Homo sapiens: one gene and its partners. The protein of the gene in region 1 purifies or fractionates together with the protein of each later gene. This does not show direct contact. Each region holds a gene or a part of one and is shown in the gene's direction. Other genes may lie near its edges.

What was found.
Region 2: the proteins of ARHGDIB (region 1) and WSB1 purify together in Homo sapiens (affinity purification with western blotting; one study listed by BioGRID). This does not show direct contact.
Region 3: the proteins of ARHGDIB (region 1) and CS fractionate together in Homo sapiens (co-fractionation; one large-scale study listed by BioGRID). This does not show direct contact.
Region 4: the proteins of ARHGDIB (region 1) and SUMO4 fractionate together in Homo sapiens (co-fractionation; one large-scale study listed by BioGRID). This does not show direct contact.

Annotation. Positions count from the first base shown.
Region 1 is NC_000012.12:14,954,883-14,958,974, reverse strand, and holds part of ARHGDIB (rho GDP-dissociation inhibitor 2), read left to right. Parts: intron 1-2,641; exon of another isoform or gene 2,642-2,799; intron 2,800-4,092. UniProt on the Homo sapiens protein: Regulates the GDP/GTP exchange reaction of the Rho proteins by inhibiting the dissociation of GDP from them, and the subsequent binding of GTP to them. Regulates reorganization of the actin cytoskeleton mediated by Rho family members.
Region 2 is NC_000017.11:27,300,289-27,304,380, forward strand, and holds part of WSB1 (WD repeat and SOCS box-containing protein 1), read left to right. Parts: intron 1-1,499; coding exon 1,500-1,668; intron 1,669-3,078; coding exon 3,079-3,347; intron 3,348-4,092. UniProt on the Homo sapiens protein: Probable substrate-recognition component of a SCF-like ECS (Elongin-Cullin-SOCS-box protein) E3 ubiquitin ligase complex which mediates the ubiquitination and subsequent proteasomal degradation of target proteins.
Region 3 is NC_000012.12:56,276,071-56,280,162, reverse strand, and holds part of CS (citrate synthase, mitochondrial precursor), read left to right. Parts: intron 1-3,967; coding exon 3,968-4,092. UniProt on the Homo sapiens protein: Key enzyme of the Krebs tricarboxylic acid cycle which catalyzes the synthesis of citrate from acetyl coenzyme A and oxaloacetate.
Region 4 is NC_000006.12:149,398,857-149,401,778, forward strand, and holds SUMO4 (small ubiquitin-related modifier 4), read left to right. Parts: upstream 1-1,405; 5' UTR 1,406-1,535; coding exon 1,536-1,823; 3' UTR 1,824-2,422; downstream 2,423-2,922. Other genes in the region: TAB2 (TGF-beta-activated kinase 1 and MAP3K7-binding protein 2), read left to right, coding at 248-328. UniProt on the Homo sapiens protein: Ubiquitin-like protein which can be covalently attached to target lysines as a monomer. Does not seem to be involved in protein degradation and may modulate protein subcellular localization, stability or activity.

The DNA of each region.
Region 1 (4,092 bases):
GAGTTCTTATTCCTGGTTTGTGTTATTGCTGCCCGGGATCCTGTATTCAAGGCTACACTGGCATACCCAGAGATGAGTCTCATGTTGCCCCTGAAACGTCAGCAACATTTATCTGTGCAATAAGCACATCCTGAATCATCCTGTGTTGTGTTACTCTCTGGTGTCCACAGCCAAAGAGTGAATTTTACCGCTGGTAAAAATTCACTTGGGCTTTCTTAAAGAGCCTAATAATCTTAGCACAAACGGTCATAAAAAAAATTCTCTCTCAATTCTGTCTAACTTTTCATGCTAATTTAAAACTTTTGTGAATATATTGAGATACTGAAGGCAATGGCTTCCTTAATGCACAGTTTTCTTTGAGAATTATTTAAAATAATATTTGTGAAGGTACTTGGTGGCATGACTTCACACGTTGGGCACTCAGCAAAGCTCACGGGATCTCTTTGAGTTCTCTCTCTTTGTGCATATGAATGTGGGTTAGAAAAACACACTAAAAAATGCACAGGCAAGAAATAATAAATTGTTTCTCTCACAAAGACAAATGGTAAGAAATTACGTTTCTAGTAATTTGTGCCCTTCTCTGGATTGATTACAATATTTATTGTCTCTTACAAAATAATCTTGTCTTTGGTTTTTCTCATCCAGTTTTGAAGTTTTCGTAGTCCTTCATGGGGCTGAGGTGGTAGAAAGCAGCACCGCAAAGTGGGGAGTATGGATTCCTCCATGTCACCAGGGACAGGGGCGGTGGGGAGAGGGTGGAATCCCGAACCAAGAAGGCTTCTGGTGTCCTGAGAGACAAATTTGCAATCCCGTAATACACCAAATTGCCAGGCAAGCAGCACAGCACATTCAAATCCTTGACTAGCTCTGAAATGTCAACAGTGTTTTAGAGATGGCCTGACTCTCCAGACCTGCACTAGACCCACAGCCCGATTTGGGGGAAGTCAGACATATCCTAGTCAGCAGGGAAAGTGGAGGTAGCAGGAGTTACAGAGAATGCTGATGCTCACATAGGAACTTCTCTGATAGAAATCCCCTACTTCTGGTATTTCCACTTTTCTCTCTCTCTTCCCTCTCTCTCTTTCTCCCTTCTCCCTCCTCTCTCTCTCCTCTTTCTCTCTCCCTCTTTCCCCTCTTCCTTCTCTCTCTCTCATCGCTATCTCTTCTACCTAATACATTAATATCCATGGCCTGTGTGTCTAGATGCATAATCCAGCACAATTTTGCAGATCCAGCTTTGGGCCGTGAGTTAAGTCTCTGTGGTATTTTGCTCCAGAGCCAGAGGGAATTCTCTTCATTAGCTGTGCCTGTGTTCACTGACATTTCTCATCATTCGCAGAGTGACCTCTGGCTTCAATGAAGACAGGGAGCAATAAATAAAACCTAAAATTAAATTGTTTACATGAAAGTTTTTAAAAGAAATATAATATAGTCTCATTTTAAGGTTGATTCAGTTTTTAAACAATCCTTTCAATTCCCCAGAACTTCTTATCTCTTTAATACTCCTCAAAGACAAAAATCTATTTTTAAGGAGGAAGGAGTGGGGACATAGCTCCCATCCAGGGGAAAGTATTTGGTGTGGAAACAGTTACCTAGCTTCAGTGAAGCTTTGCAACAAAGCAGACCACACTGGGGCAGGGAAGGAAGAAGAGGAAGGGAACAAATATTCACGGAACATCTATTCTTGACCAGTATAGTCCTATAATTTTTCATGTGTTTTCTCCAATCTTTCAACCCCGTAAAAAAGAATATCCCCATTTTAGTGGTGATAAAACTGAGGCTCAGTGAAATTAGCAACTTGATTGAGTCCTGTCATAATGCAGAGCCTGGTTTTGAATCCCTGGTCCATCTGACTCAATCTATGTTCTATGAGACATGAAAGTCACCTTTCTCTGAATTACCCAGGTAATTTGTTTAATCTAAACTCAGGAGTTCTACCTTTTCTTGTCCTCAGTTCATTTAGAGCTGCATTAATGAAACAGATGATGCTCTATCCTGACATGGGTGTAAATTTTTAAGTGTAATTCACTTTCAAAGTCTTGGAAATTTCACTGAATTTGCAAGCAAAAACATTGATGTGTGCTATGTCATATGCATGCTGTGAGTAACCATCCTAATTTAATTCGACATTTTAATTGAGCCTGAGAAGATTAAGTCCCCATCTCAGCACATCTAATGCTTGCCAGTGCTTTGCTGAGTAGCAAACATGAGGATGTGAGGCCTCCAATGTGAAAGTTAATCTGTATGCGCATCTGTGAAGCAGAAAATACAGAAAACTAGAGTAGCAAGCCTGTGTGAAAAAATGATATGTGCTTTGGGGCCTAATAAATGGGGTCCACATTAACCTGGTTAAACATATAACTGTTCATTCTCCATTTCATTTTTCCTGTGCAAAGGACCAAAGTCAAAAATAAGCAAAACTCAGCTCTGCCCTTTGTAGAATAGGGGATGAGCAGCTGAGGAAGGTGAGGAAAGCCCATCCAGAAGATTCTATGCTGATGGGCTGAGTCCTCCCCAATCTCCCTTTTACTTCCTCTTTTCTTTTCTCATTTCACAAGCTTCTTTAAATTAGGGAGCATTTGAGTCATTAAATTAAGAAGGGGCCTCAGAGATCCTCTCATGCCACGGCTTCTTTTTGCAGAGGATGAAACTGGGGCCCAGTGAGGTTAAGCAACTTGCAGGAGGTAACGCAGGAACCGAGTTGCGCTGAAACATCGTTATCTGACACTTCCCTGCTTTGTTAAAGCTGTCTCTGCAGAGCTTGCAAAGAAGCATTTACCTCTGCTTGTGCACCTCCAGGTAGATTCCCAAGATGACTAACAAACTCTAATTTTATTATAACTTCTTAAAGATGACTGAAGCAATAAAGCATAGTGCCTAAAAGTCAGACAACCTGGGCGCAGACATTAATTCTGCCTACCACGTGGTATGTCTTCTTAGGCAAGTTACTTAACGTGAACTTTAGTTTCCTGGTCTGGAAAAGAGAATGATGATGCCAACAAAGTTACTGTAAGAACTAAATGAGATAATCCTCTAGAAAGCACTTAGCACTACATGTGATAACTATTATAATTTGTATTAATAATATCAATATTATCAATAGGAAAATCAGTTGTCCTTTAGATGATGGGATTGGAAAACAGTCTGTAGAATTTTCATAAAATTCCTATTCTCATTTCAACACACATCCATAAAATAGGAGGATAAAAAGAGAAAATTGTTGTTTGTGGTTAAATATGCACACAGATAATTTGAGAAATCATTGTCAAACTGTATATGCCATTTATGGCTGGGGCTTCGGGAGAAACTGAGGTTACCCAGAAATAACGTTAAAAATGCAGTACAATGCTTAATAATATTGTATTGTACTTGAGTTTTGCTGAAGAGTAGATTTTAGGTGCTCTTGCCACACACAAAAAAAAGTGGGTGAGATGATGGATATGTTAATTTGCTTGACTATAGTAACCTTTTCACTATCTATGTATCCCAGACATATTTTACATCTTAAATATATACAATAAATACTTTTTAAGAAATTGATTCATAGGAGGTATTTATGTATTCCCGATATCAATCTCTTGTTAATACATGCATTGCGAATGTCTCATTTTTAGAATCCAGACCATTACTCTTTTCACTGTCTATAGGGTGATATTAGGAAAGGAATTTTAAATGCTTGTGTAATTGAAATATTTAATATTTTCTTCTATGTCTTAGTTTTTGCACTTGTAAAATGTAATTGTGCCTACCTCACAACATTGCGATGACTGAATGAAATAATGCATGCCAAGCACTTATCCCGTACTAACTGAGTTTTTGGCTCACAAGTGTTCAGTAACAATTTGCTATTACTATTATGGTACCCTTTATTATGCAAAGACCTGTTCAGTGAAAGAAAAATAATTTTATGTCTGGGAGAAAAATAAGTAAAATAAAATAAAATAAAATATGCAGCATCTGTTGGGGATTCACATACATTTTATTTTTTAATTTTTAAATTTCCTTTTAAAGATGAATTTTATTGCATATATTTAAGGTATACAACATAATGTTTAGGGACACACATCGATAGTAAAAATGTTAGTGAAGCAA
Region 2 (4,092 bases), on another chromosome or scaffold:
AAAATATATTATTATACAGTGTACAATTGACCAGACAACTGACCACAAAATAGGTAATAGGGAAAATTAAGACCAACCCAAAATAGGTGATACACTGATAAAGAGGCTCCTTTCCCCAAATTGAGGAAATTGTAGCTGAGTTTGCATGCATGCATTGCAGTATGAGCTTGTTGATCATGCTTTTTGTTAAATATGGAAGTAATATTCTCCATATACTCTGGTAATATGCCAATTTTTGTTAGGAATACAAAATTTGAGTAATCTGAATTTAAAATATATGACATTGTCCATTTTTTGTCCTTAAAAACCAAAATAATTCCATTTTTGAGTCAGTTTGAGGCCTATTAGGAAGACTCTTAAGGACCAGTATTTGAGAATCACAAATATAATGCATTTTGGTTTTTTTTGTTTTTTTTTTTTTATGACAGTCTTGCTCTGTCACCCAGGCTGGAGTGCAGTGATGCAGTCTTGGCTCACTGCAGTCTCCACCTCCAAGATTCAAACAGTTCTTATGCTTCAGCCTTCCAAGAAGCTGGGATTACAGACACACTCCAGCATACCACCATGCCCGGCTATAATGCATTTTCTTTTATTTTAGCTTATTTTTTTTTTGAGATGGAGTCTCACTCTGTCGCCCAGGCTGGGGTGCAGTGGCACTTTCTTGGCTTACTGCAACTTCCGCCTCCTGGGTTCAGGCAATTCTCCTGCTTCATCCTGGGATTACAGGCGCCCACCACCACGCCCAGCTAATTTTTGTATTTTTAGTAGAGACAGGGTTTCAAACCATGTTGGCCAGGCTGGTCTCAAACTCCAGACCTCAAGTGATCCGCTTGTCTTGGCCTCCCAGAATGTTGGGATTACAGGTGTGAGCAACCACACGCGGCCTATAATGCCTTTTTAAAGCACTGGTTTGGAGGGTTGGACTAGACAACCTGTAAGTCTCTTCTAGTTCTGAGGGTTTTGTGATTTTTGTGACCTGGGCCTGAAAAGGGTAAAAATACTTGTTTGGATAGTGTATTTTGTAGTGCTTTCCTTTGAGTAATGGTGTAATATTGTATTTTATGGTGAGGTATGGTTTTTGAAAGCTAAGAAACTTAATTTGGAAGATACTTTTCCTGCCAACTAAGTTTAATTTCTTGCATTTTAAATGTTAATAATTTGATGAGAACGTAATACAATGCAAAAGTTAGGACTTTTGTAATTGTTAGGTCTAATTGGTCATTACATTATTATTGACCAGTTTTTTTTACGGAAACTTTCTTAAAAACTCTTGCATTGGGAAATTTTAGGGAAATCACTTTATCAAAACTTGGAGATAGTCATTATCGTTAAGGGGTCTTCATATACTGCATACCCCCCGTTAGAGGATGGAATGCAGAACTCACTATACCCTGTCTGCATAGAAGAGGGAAGAAACTCAATCCCAAAGTAATATGGAAGCAGTCTCACATGTATTGTTGGTTATATATGATATCCAGTATTTTTATTTTTCCTTTTAGTGAGATTACGTACTATAGGTGAACTTTTAGCTCCTGCAGCTCCTTTTGACAAGAAATGTGGTCGTGAAAATTGGACTGTTGCTTTTGCTCCAGATGGTTCATACTTTGCTTGGTCACAAGGACATCGCACAGTAAAGCTTGTTCCGTGGTCCCAGTGCCTTCAGAACTTGTAAGACTGTTACTTTTCTGTATTTTGTATCTGTTTGTGGAATTTACCATTTTCTCTCAGTGTAGGGTAATAAAAACATTTTGATATTTAAGTTTTACTTTATAGATGATGTCGTGAGTTTTAATCATGGGCTGAATATATTTATTGGAAATTTTGTGTAAAGAATTCTTTGGGCCGGGCGCGGCGGCTCAGGCCTATAATCCCAGCACTTTGGGAGGCCAAGGCAGGCAGATCACTTGAGGTCAGGAGTTTGATACCCGCCTGGCCAACATGGTGAAACCCCATCTCTACTGAAAATACAAGAACTAGCTGGGCGTGGTGTGGCACACCTGTAGTCCCAGCTACTCGGGAGGCTGAGGCAGAAGAATTGCTTGAACCCAGGAGCCGGAGGTTGTAGTGAGTCGAGATAGCACCACTGCACTCCAGCCTGGGTGACAGAGCCAAATAATGTCTCAAAAAAAAAAAAAAAAAAAGAATTGTCTGGTGTTATTTATACATTAAGTTTTTCTGTATGTTAAAAGTCAGATTGTGTCTAACAAGTGTATATATATATATAGTGTTGTGCCAGAGTAGGTGACTTCTGTGATGTGAAGCTTTTTGGATTCACTTTGGATTTTACATTTTGTTGGATAACCCTGGTGCATAGTAGTAGAGACAGGGGTTTCACCGTGTTGGCCAGGCTGGTCTCGAACTCCTGACTTTAGGTGATCCACCCTCCTCAGCCTCCCTAAGTGCTGGGATTACAGGCGTGAGCCACCGAGCCTGGCCCTTTGTTGTTGTTGTTGTTGTTTTTGTTTTTAATGGACTTATAGTCCCTCTGTTTGGGGTAAATTGAGTTTGGATGTTTGTTGAAAGTTTTTCTAAAATGTATCATGTGCTATATTGGATCTTTCCCTGTTTTTTTTGTGTCTAGCAGACCTTCATGGTTATAGTCACTAATGTTCTCATTACATATAACTTGAGGTCTGGAACCTATGGGAAACTGATCATTATGGTTTGAGGATTTTTTTCCCCCTTTAAGGCAATTTTCTGATATCAGCTTGACCATATCTTAAGTTACTGGGTTTTTTTGTTTGTTTGTTTGTTTTTTGCTTATTTATACTTGTGTTTTTAGGTTGAAGGAGCACCAGTTGATTCGGTGGTTTTGAGGAAAATTTGGGAGGCAAATAAGTTATAATATAAATTGCTTTATTGTTGAACTTACTACTCAGTCACTGAGAATTTCTATTAATGTCCTTCTCTCGTAGTTCAAATATCAACCTTTCCCTTCCTATCTATAGGATTCTATTGTTATTTGGTGTCATTATAATAATATTGAGGTTATTTTAACAAACACTTGTAATTATTCAATGTCCAGAGGAGTCCAGAGTGAATAATAATACAATTTCCATCTGACTTCCCCCACTCCAGTCTCTTGCATGGCACCAAGAATGTTACCAATTCAAGCAGTTTAAGATTGCCAAGACAAAATAGTGATGGTGGTCAGAAAAATAAGCCTCGTGAACATATTATAGACTGTGGAGATATAGTCTGGAGTCTTGCTTTTGGGTCATCAGTTCCAGAAAAACAGAGTCGCTGTGTAAATATAGAATGGCATCGCTTCAGATTTGGACAAGATCAGCTACTTCTTGCTACAGGGTTGAACAATGGGCGTATCAAAATATGGGATGTATATACAGGTATGGATTCATAGTTTTTAAAGCAAATGTATTATTTTATGATGCAGGGCACTGCTTATAGGCACTGGAATTGGGATTTGAGGATTTCAGCTTACTGAAAAGCAAGAATTGATGGCATAGGTGCGTCTTTATAATAGACCTGAATGTCACCTTCTTCAGCTCATGATTTTAATTTAGGAAAACTATGGAGTTCATATTGCTTCATCACTCTTTAGAGAGTATTACAGTAGGAAAGGGTTTTCCAGGGAATGTTTAGTTAGTTGTCCTTTATAAACTAGTTATTTAGTTAATGACTCACATGTCAAGGTGTTTTCTTTGTTTATGCTTTTTCAATGATTGATAGCTTAGAGGTTTTCGAGGTAAATCAGATTTCAGTAATCATCTCACCTTGGAAAGGTTTAGTGAAAGTTTAGATAGATTGAGAAGTTAAATTCTTTGGGCAACTAGAAATAAATGTGTTGCTTATTGCCTAAAACACTTTCTGGCATATAATATGTACTCAAAAACATAAAGGATTTTTAAAGAAGCATTAAAAGAACATGTACATTAGAACATAACAAGTGATACTAACATAGGTGATAATGAGTCAAAATTTGGGTTCTTGAAAAAAACAAGATGAACACATAGATTGTCTTAGAAAACAAAGCTCTTACATTATTAGTTAAATACATTTTTTTTCACTGGGATCATGTTTGAAAACTAAAGTTGTGGGATAACTTGTATCTTTTGAGGAGCTTAACATTCC
Region 3 (4,092 bases), about 41 Mb from region 1:
ATTACAGGCTTAAGCCACCACGCCTGGCCTTGTCTTTTTAATAGAGTTTCACCATGTTGGCTAGGCTGGTCTAGAACGGCTGGTCCAGAACTCCTGACCTCAGGTGATTCGCCCACCTCTTCCCCAAAGTGCTGGGATTATAGGCGTGAGCCACCACCCTGGGCCTTTTTGTTTGTTTGTTTTGTTTTGTTTTTTGAGATGGAGTCTCGCTCTGTTGCCCAGGCTGGAGTGCAGTGACACAATCTCAGCTCACCACAACCTCTGCCTCCTGGGTTCAAGCGATTCTCCTGCCTCAGCCTCCCCGGTAGCTGGGACTACAGGTGCGCACCACCACGCCTGGCTAATTTTTGGTTTTTGCTTTTTTGCTTTTGTTTTGTTTTTTTTTGGTTTTTTTTTTGAGATGGAGTCTCGCTCTGTTGCCCAGGCTGGAGTGCAGTGGTGCGATCTCAGCTGATTGCAAGCTCCGCCTCCCTGGTTCAAGCAATTCTCCTGCCTCAGCCTCCCGAGTAGTTGGGACTACAGGCACCCGCCACCATGCCTGGCTAATTTTTTGTATTTTTAGTAGAGTCGGGGTTTCACCGTGTTAGCCAGGATTGTCTCGATCTCCTGACCTCGTGATCCACCCGCCTCAGCCTCCAAAAGTGCTGGGATTACAGGCGTGAGCCACCGCGCCTGGCCTTGTGTTTTTAATAGAGACGGGGTTTCACTGTGTTGGCCAGGCTGATCTTGAACTCCTGACCTTGTGATCTGCCTGCCTCGGCCTCACAAAGTGCTGGGGATTATAGGAGTGAGCCATGGTGCCCAGCCTTCTTGAGCTTTTAAGGAGTTGTTTTTACATATACCTTAAGAGGATGATCTTCTGCACAGAACATTTCTTCTATAATAATTTCCATTAACTCTAGATGAATAGTGTAATCTCTTGAGTTGAAAGAGTTTAACTAGCTTCTAGGCCTCTAATTGACTTAAGGTCACTCAGAACAAGGAGATTGATTGCTCTGATGCAACCAGCTGTTTAATTGTGAAGTAGCCTTAAGCTGTTGAATTTAGTCAAATTTGTGAAGTAGCTGACAGATCAAGTTTTGCTAGTAGGCCAGGCGTGGGGACTCATGCTTGTAATCCCAGCACTTTGGGAGGCCAAGGCAGGCAGATCACTTGAGGTCAGGAGTTCAAGACCAGTCTGGCCAACATGGCGAAACCCCATCTCTACAAAATAATACAAAAATTAGCTGAGCGTCCTGGTGCACACCTGTAATCCCAACTACTCAGGAGGCCGAGGTGGGAGAATCGCTTGAACCTAGGAGGCAGAGGTTGCAGTGAGCCAAGATAGCACCACTACACTCCAGCCTGGGTGACAGAGCGAGACTTTGTCTCAAAATAAAATAAACCAAAAATATATGCTTTTTATTTACCAACTTTTTTTTTTTTTTTCCGAGACAGAGTCTCTGTCGCTCAGGCTGCAGTGCAGTGGCACGACCTCGGCTCACTGCAACCTCCGCCTCCCAGGTTCAAGCAATTTTCCTGCCTTGGCCTCCCGAGTAGCTGGGACCACAGGTGCAAGCCACCACGCCCATCTAATTTTTGTATTTTTAGTAGAGATGGGGTTTTGCCTTGTTGGCCAGGATGGTCTTGATCTGTTGACCTCTTGATCCGCGCTCCTCAGCCTCCCAAAGTTCTGGGATTACAGGTGTGAGCCACCGTGCTTGGCCTGTTTATCAACTTTTTAAAAAGTGACATGGGCTGGGTGCAGTGGCTCACGCCTGTAATCTCAGCACTTTGGGAGGCCGAGGAAGGTGGATAACCTGAGGTCAGGAGTTTGAGACCGGCCTGGCCAATATGGTGAAACCCCATCTCTACTAAAGATACAAAAAATTAGGCATGGTGGCGCACGCCTGTAATCCCAGCTACTCAGAAGGCCAAGGCACAAGAATCGCTTGAACCCCGGAGGCGGAGGTTGCAGTGAGCTGAGATCGCACCATTGCACTCCAGCCTGGGCGACAGGGTGAGACTCCGTCTCAAAAAATAAAAGTGGCATGAGTTAATAATGTAAGCTAGGTAACGCTTCTTGGCTACATGGGTGACCTTGTGCAAGTTAACTTAGCTAAGCCCCAATTTCCTCATTTATAAAAAGAGGTATATGTTACCTTACAGGATTATTGTAAGAAAAGAAAAAGTAATACTGCAAATAGATAGCACAGTACCTGTTGCATAGTAAGTGCTTAAAGAATGGAAGCCTCGGCCGGGTGCGGTGGCTCACTCCTGTAATCCCAGAACTTTGAGGGGCCAAGGTGGGCAAATCACCTGAGGTCGGGAGTTCAAGACTAACCTGACCAACATGGTGAAACCCCCCTCTACTAAAAATACAAAATTAAGCCAGGCATGGTGGTGCATCCTGTAATCTCAGCTACTCAGGAGGCTGAGGCAGGAGAATGGCGTGAACCCGGGAGGCGGAGCTTGCAGTGAGCCGAGATCGCGCCACTGTACTCCAGCCTCGGCGACAGAGCGAGAATCCATCTCAAAAAAAAAAAAAAAAAAGAATGGAAGTCTTTGTTATTAAATAACAATTGCATATCACTGTTTGATCCTTGGCACATACAGTGAATTTTCTTTGAAAGATGGAACATAGAATTCATTATTAAAACCTAGTGTCTTTTTTTTTTATTTTTTGAGACGGAGTCTCACTCTGTCGCCCAGGCTGGAGTACAGTGGCACGATCTTGGCTCACTGCAAGCTCCACCTGCCAGATTCACGCCATTCTCCTGCCTCAGCCTCCCGAGTAGCTGGGACTACAGGCGCCCACCACCACGCCTGGCTAATTTTTTGTATTTTTAGTAGAGACGGGGTTTCACCGTGTTAGCCAGGATGGTCTCGATCTCCTGACCTCATGATCTGCCTGCCTCGGCCTCCGAAAGTGCTGGGATTACAGGCATGAGCCACTGTGCCCGACCCCTTTTTTTTTTTTTAGACAGAGTCTCGCTCTGTGGTCCAGGCTGGAGTGCAGTGGCACTATCTCGGCTCACTGCAACCTCCACCTCCCGGGTTCAAGCAATTCTCCTGCCTCAGCCTCCCGAGTAGCTGGGATTATAGGCGCCGGCCCACACCACGCCTGGCTGATTTTTTGTGTTTTTAGAAGAGACCAGGTTTCACCATGTTGGCCAGGCTGGTCTTGAACTCCTGACCTCAAATGATCTGCCAGCCTCAGCCTCCCAAAGTGCTGGCATTATAGGCATGAGCTGCCGTGTCTGGCTGTAAAACCTGCTGTCTTAACACATTGAACGTCAAGTCATGGTGTAGTGAAAAAGATCATGATTAAACATATCAGAGGGCCAGGCATGGTGGCTCACACCTATAATCCCAGCACTTTGGGAGGCCAAGGCAGGCAGATCACCTGAGGTCGGGAGTTTCTAGACTAGCCTAACCAACATGGAGAAACCCCGTCTCTACTAAAAATACAAAATTAGCCGGGTATGGTGGCACATGCCTGTAATCCCAGCTACTCAGGAGGCTGAGGCAGGAGAATCACTTGAACTTGGGAGGCGGAGGTTGCAGTGAGCTAAGATTGCGCCATTGCACTCCAGCCTGGGCAACAAGAGTGAAACTCTGTCTCAGAAAACCATATCAGAGTTCAAACTTGACTTTAGCATTTAACCTAATACTATGAGCCTTAGTTTACTCATCTTTAAAATGGCAGTCATTATATACTTTGTAGTAGTAAGCATTGGGAATAATGTTTTAGTGTACATTAGATAGTATTACAAATCACTTAGTGCCTGGGTCATAATAGTTATTCAGTGAAATGGTTATGATTGTTATTCTCTACTTTCAAACATACTCAATATATAACAACCCATCATATAACTAACCATCAACCCAAATAGCCCCAATTCATGGAGGACAGACGATATCCCTGCCTAATTCTTCTTTGCTGATAATTCCTTTTTTTTTCTCCATCTTGCTCCTCTTCTGTCAGTTGATTTATGAAGACTCTATGGATCTAATCGCAAAGCTACCTTGTGTTGCAGCAAAGATCTACCGAAATCTCTACAGAGAAGGCAGCGGTATTGGGGCCATTGACTCTAACCTGGACTGGTCTCA
Region 4 (2,922 bases), on another chromosome or scaffold:
TACCAGCATTAATTTGACTTCTTTCACAGTTTACCACTTACCCGTGTTTATGAGTACTACATTATACCTAAGATAATATATTTGAAATATGTTTTGAAATCTTACATATAATTCGAGGTTAGAGGGGCAAAATAAATGAAAAGCATTTCTTATAGCGTGTTTATTTTTAGAAAGAAATACTTGTTTTAAAAAGTAAAGTTGTTTTTGAGCTATAAGCATTGATATATTTACTTTTTATATATTTCAGGACCACATTTTAACCCCAGCGCTATTCATAACTTTTATGACAATATTGGATTTGTAGGTCCTGTGCCACCAAAACCCAAAGGTTAGTGTATCCATTAAATGTGAAAACTGTTACTTTTGAAAAGCAAAATTTTAGAAAATTTTTCCTGTTCAGCAACCTTCCTCTCTAGAATTGCTTCAAACTTTGGCATTCTTAAATGAATTCATTAAGAAGATGTTTGCTTATTTTCATTTACATGCTTGGGGTTGGGAAGGATGCAAAGATGTAATATTCTTAGCTTTTTAAAAGTAATATGCACGAGCTTAGGAAACACTATGTACTCCCAACCAATAATAGCAAGTCTTGGTTAAAAAACAATTACTAAGTACAAAAATTTGTATCATTTAAAACTTTAGACAAATGATAAGGAAGATACCTTAGGGAAGTTCCCCCCCCCCATGAGTATTTAGTTTAATTTATATATAACTTTAAGTAATCAAAATACCCTAAATTCCAGGTGAATAGTTTTCTACCTTCTATCATTTTACATCATTGATATTCTCAGAATATATGCACACCAAACTAAGACATTTCAAAGTATGTCTGTGTGTTTTGATCCAGGCATTAAAATGTGTGTAGAAATGGAAACAGGTACATAAATATCACTGCTGAAGGTAAAAATATAGACATATTTACAGATTAACACTTAACCGTGGTATATAATTTACTTTCAACTCTAATAAGAAAGTTAAAAGGTAAAAATGTGTTAATGGATACATAATATTAAAAGAAGAAAACTGCAAGAACACAAAAGTGTGGGAGGGTGGAGGTTGTAAAGATGCAGTAGTATTTTTGTATGCATTTGAAGTTAAGTTGTTATCAACTTAAAATAGAAGAGTATAACCAAATATAATCAAAGTAAATCACGATTAAACGTTGTCGAATAACAAGACAATAAGAGGAAAAGAGGAGCAAAACAGTTGTCAAATAGACAGGAAGCAACAAACTGCCAATAGTAAGTCCTCACTTATTAGTAATTACCTTAACTGGAAATGGATTAAACTCACCACTCACAAGGAGTTGTATGAATGGATTTTAAAAACAGGATCTGGCAGCAGCCAATGGGAGGCCCCAACAGCTCGTGCTGGCGCACACAGCGGGAGGGGAGGGAGCCCAGGATGTGCACGCACCCTCTCCCTCATCCACCGCTGTCACCTCCTGCTGCTCTTCCTGCTGCTCGTGTACTCGTTAGGTGCGGACCCGCCACCTCTTTTGTGAAGCAGCAGCTGAGGAGACTCCGGTGTTCACCATGGCCAACGAAAAGCCCACAGAAGAAGTCAAGACTGAGAACAACAATCATATTAATTTGAAGGTGGCGGGACAGGATGGTTCTGTGGTGCAGTTTAAGATTAAGAGGCAGACACCACTTAGTAAACTAATGAAAGCCTATTGTGAACCACGGGGATTGTCAGTGAAGCAGATCAGATTCCGATTTGGTGGGCAACCAATCAGTGGAACAGACAAACCTGCACAGTTGGAAATGGAAGATGAAGATACAATTGATGTGTTTCAACAGCCTACGGGAGGTGTCTACTGAAAAGGGAACCTGCTTCTTTACTCCAGAACGCTGTTCTTTAAAGACCAAGATTACTGCATTCTCAATTAGAAAACTGCAATTTGGTTCCACCACATTCTGACTACTACAGTATAGTTTTCTCTATTCTTTTGTTTCCCCCTTCCACATTCTTTTATTATACATGAAGTAACTGGTATGTGTACACAAGCATATTGCTTTTTTCTTCAAACCAAACAGCCAATGGTATGTTTTGATTGACATCAAGTGGAGACAGGATGGGAAAAAATACTGATTCTGTGAAAATACCCCCTTTATCCATTAGTGGCATGTTCATTCAGGTCTTATCTTTATATTCTAGTAAGTTATTTTGCTCTCACTGTTTTAACAACAACAAAAAAAAATTCTCACATACCTTGTTCAATTGGAGGATTTTCATGTTTTTCATTTATCATTGTAAAACCAAGGACAATTTTATAACTTTTGTGTACATAGCTGTTACATGTAGGGCAATCTGTCTTTAAGTAGGGATAAATTACTCTAAAAAAAAAAGAAAGAATCCTAGAAAGTTTTTCCTTCAAGTCAGGCTTCTTATTTAAATAAACTTTTTGTTTAAAATGAAATAAAAATAAAAACAGGATCCAATAATATACTATCTACAAGAGACTCATTTTATATTTAAAGACACACATAGGCAGAAAGTGAAGGGATGGAAAAAGATTTTATATAAATGGTAGCTAAAAGAAATCAAAAGTGGCTATAATTATATCAGAAACAATAGATTTTTAAGTCTAAAACTTGAGACAAAGATTATTATGTAATGGTAAAAGGATCAATTCCACAGAAAAATATAAAAATTATAAATATATACACACCCCACATCAGACTACATTAATATGTAAAGCAAATAATGACAGTTCTGACGACAGAAATTGACAGCAATAGTAGGAGACTTCAATACCCCCCTTACAATAATAGAATATCCAGGCAGAAAATGAATAAAGAAACAGCTGATTTGAACAAGCACACACGGAACATTCTGTAGGATAGATCATATGTTAGTTCACAAAACGAGTTTAAACAAACCTAAGAAGATAGAAATCATTCCACGTATTTTTTCTAA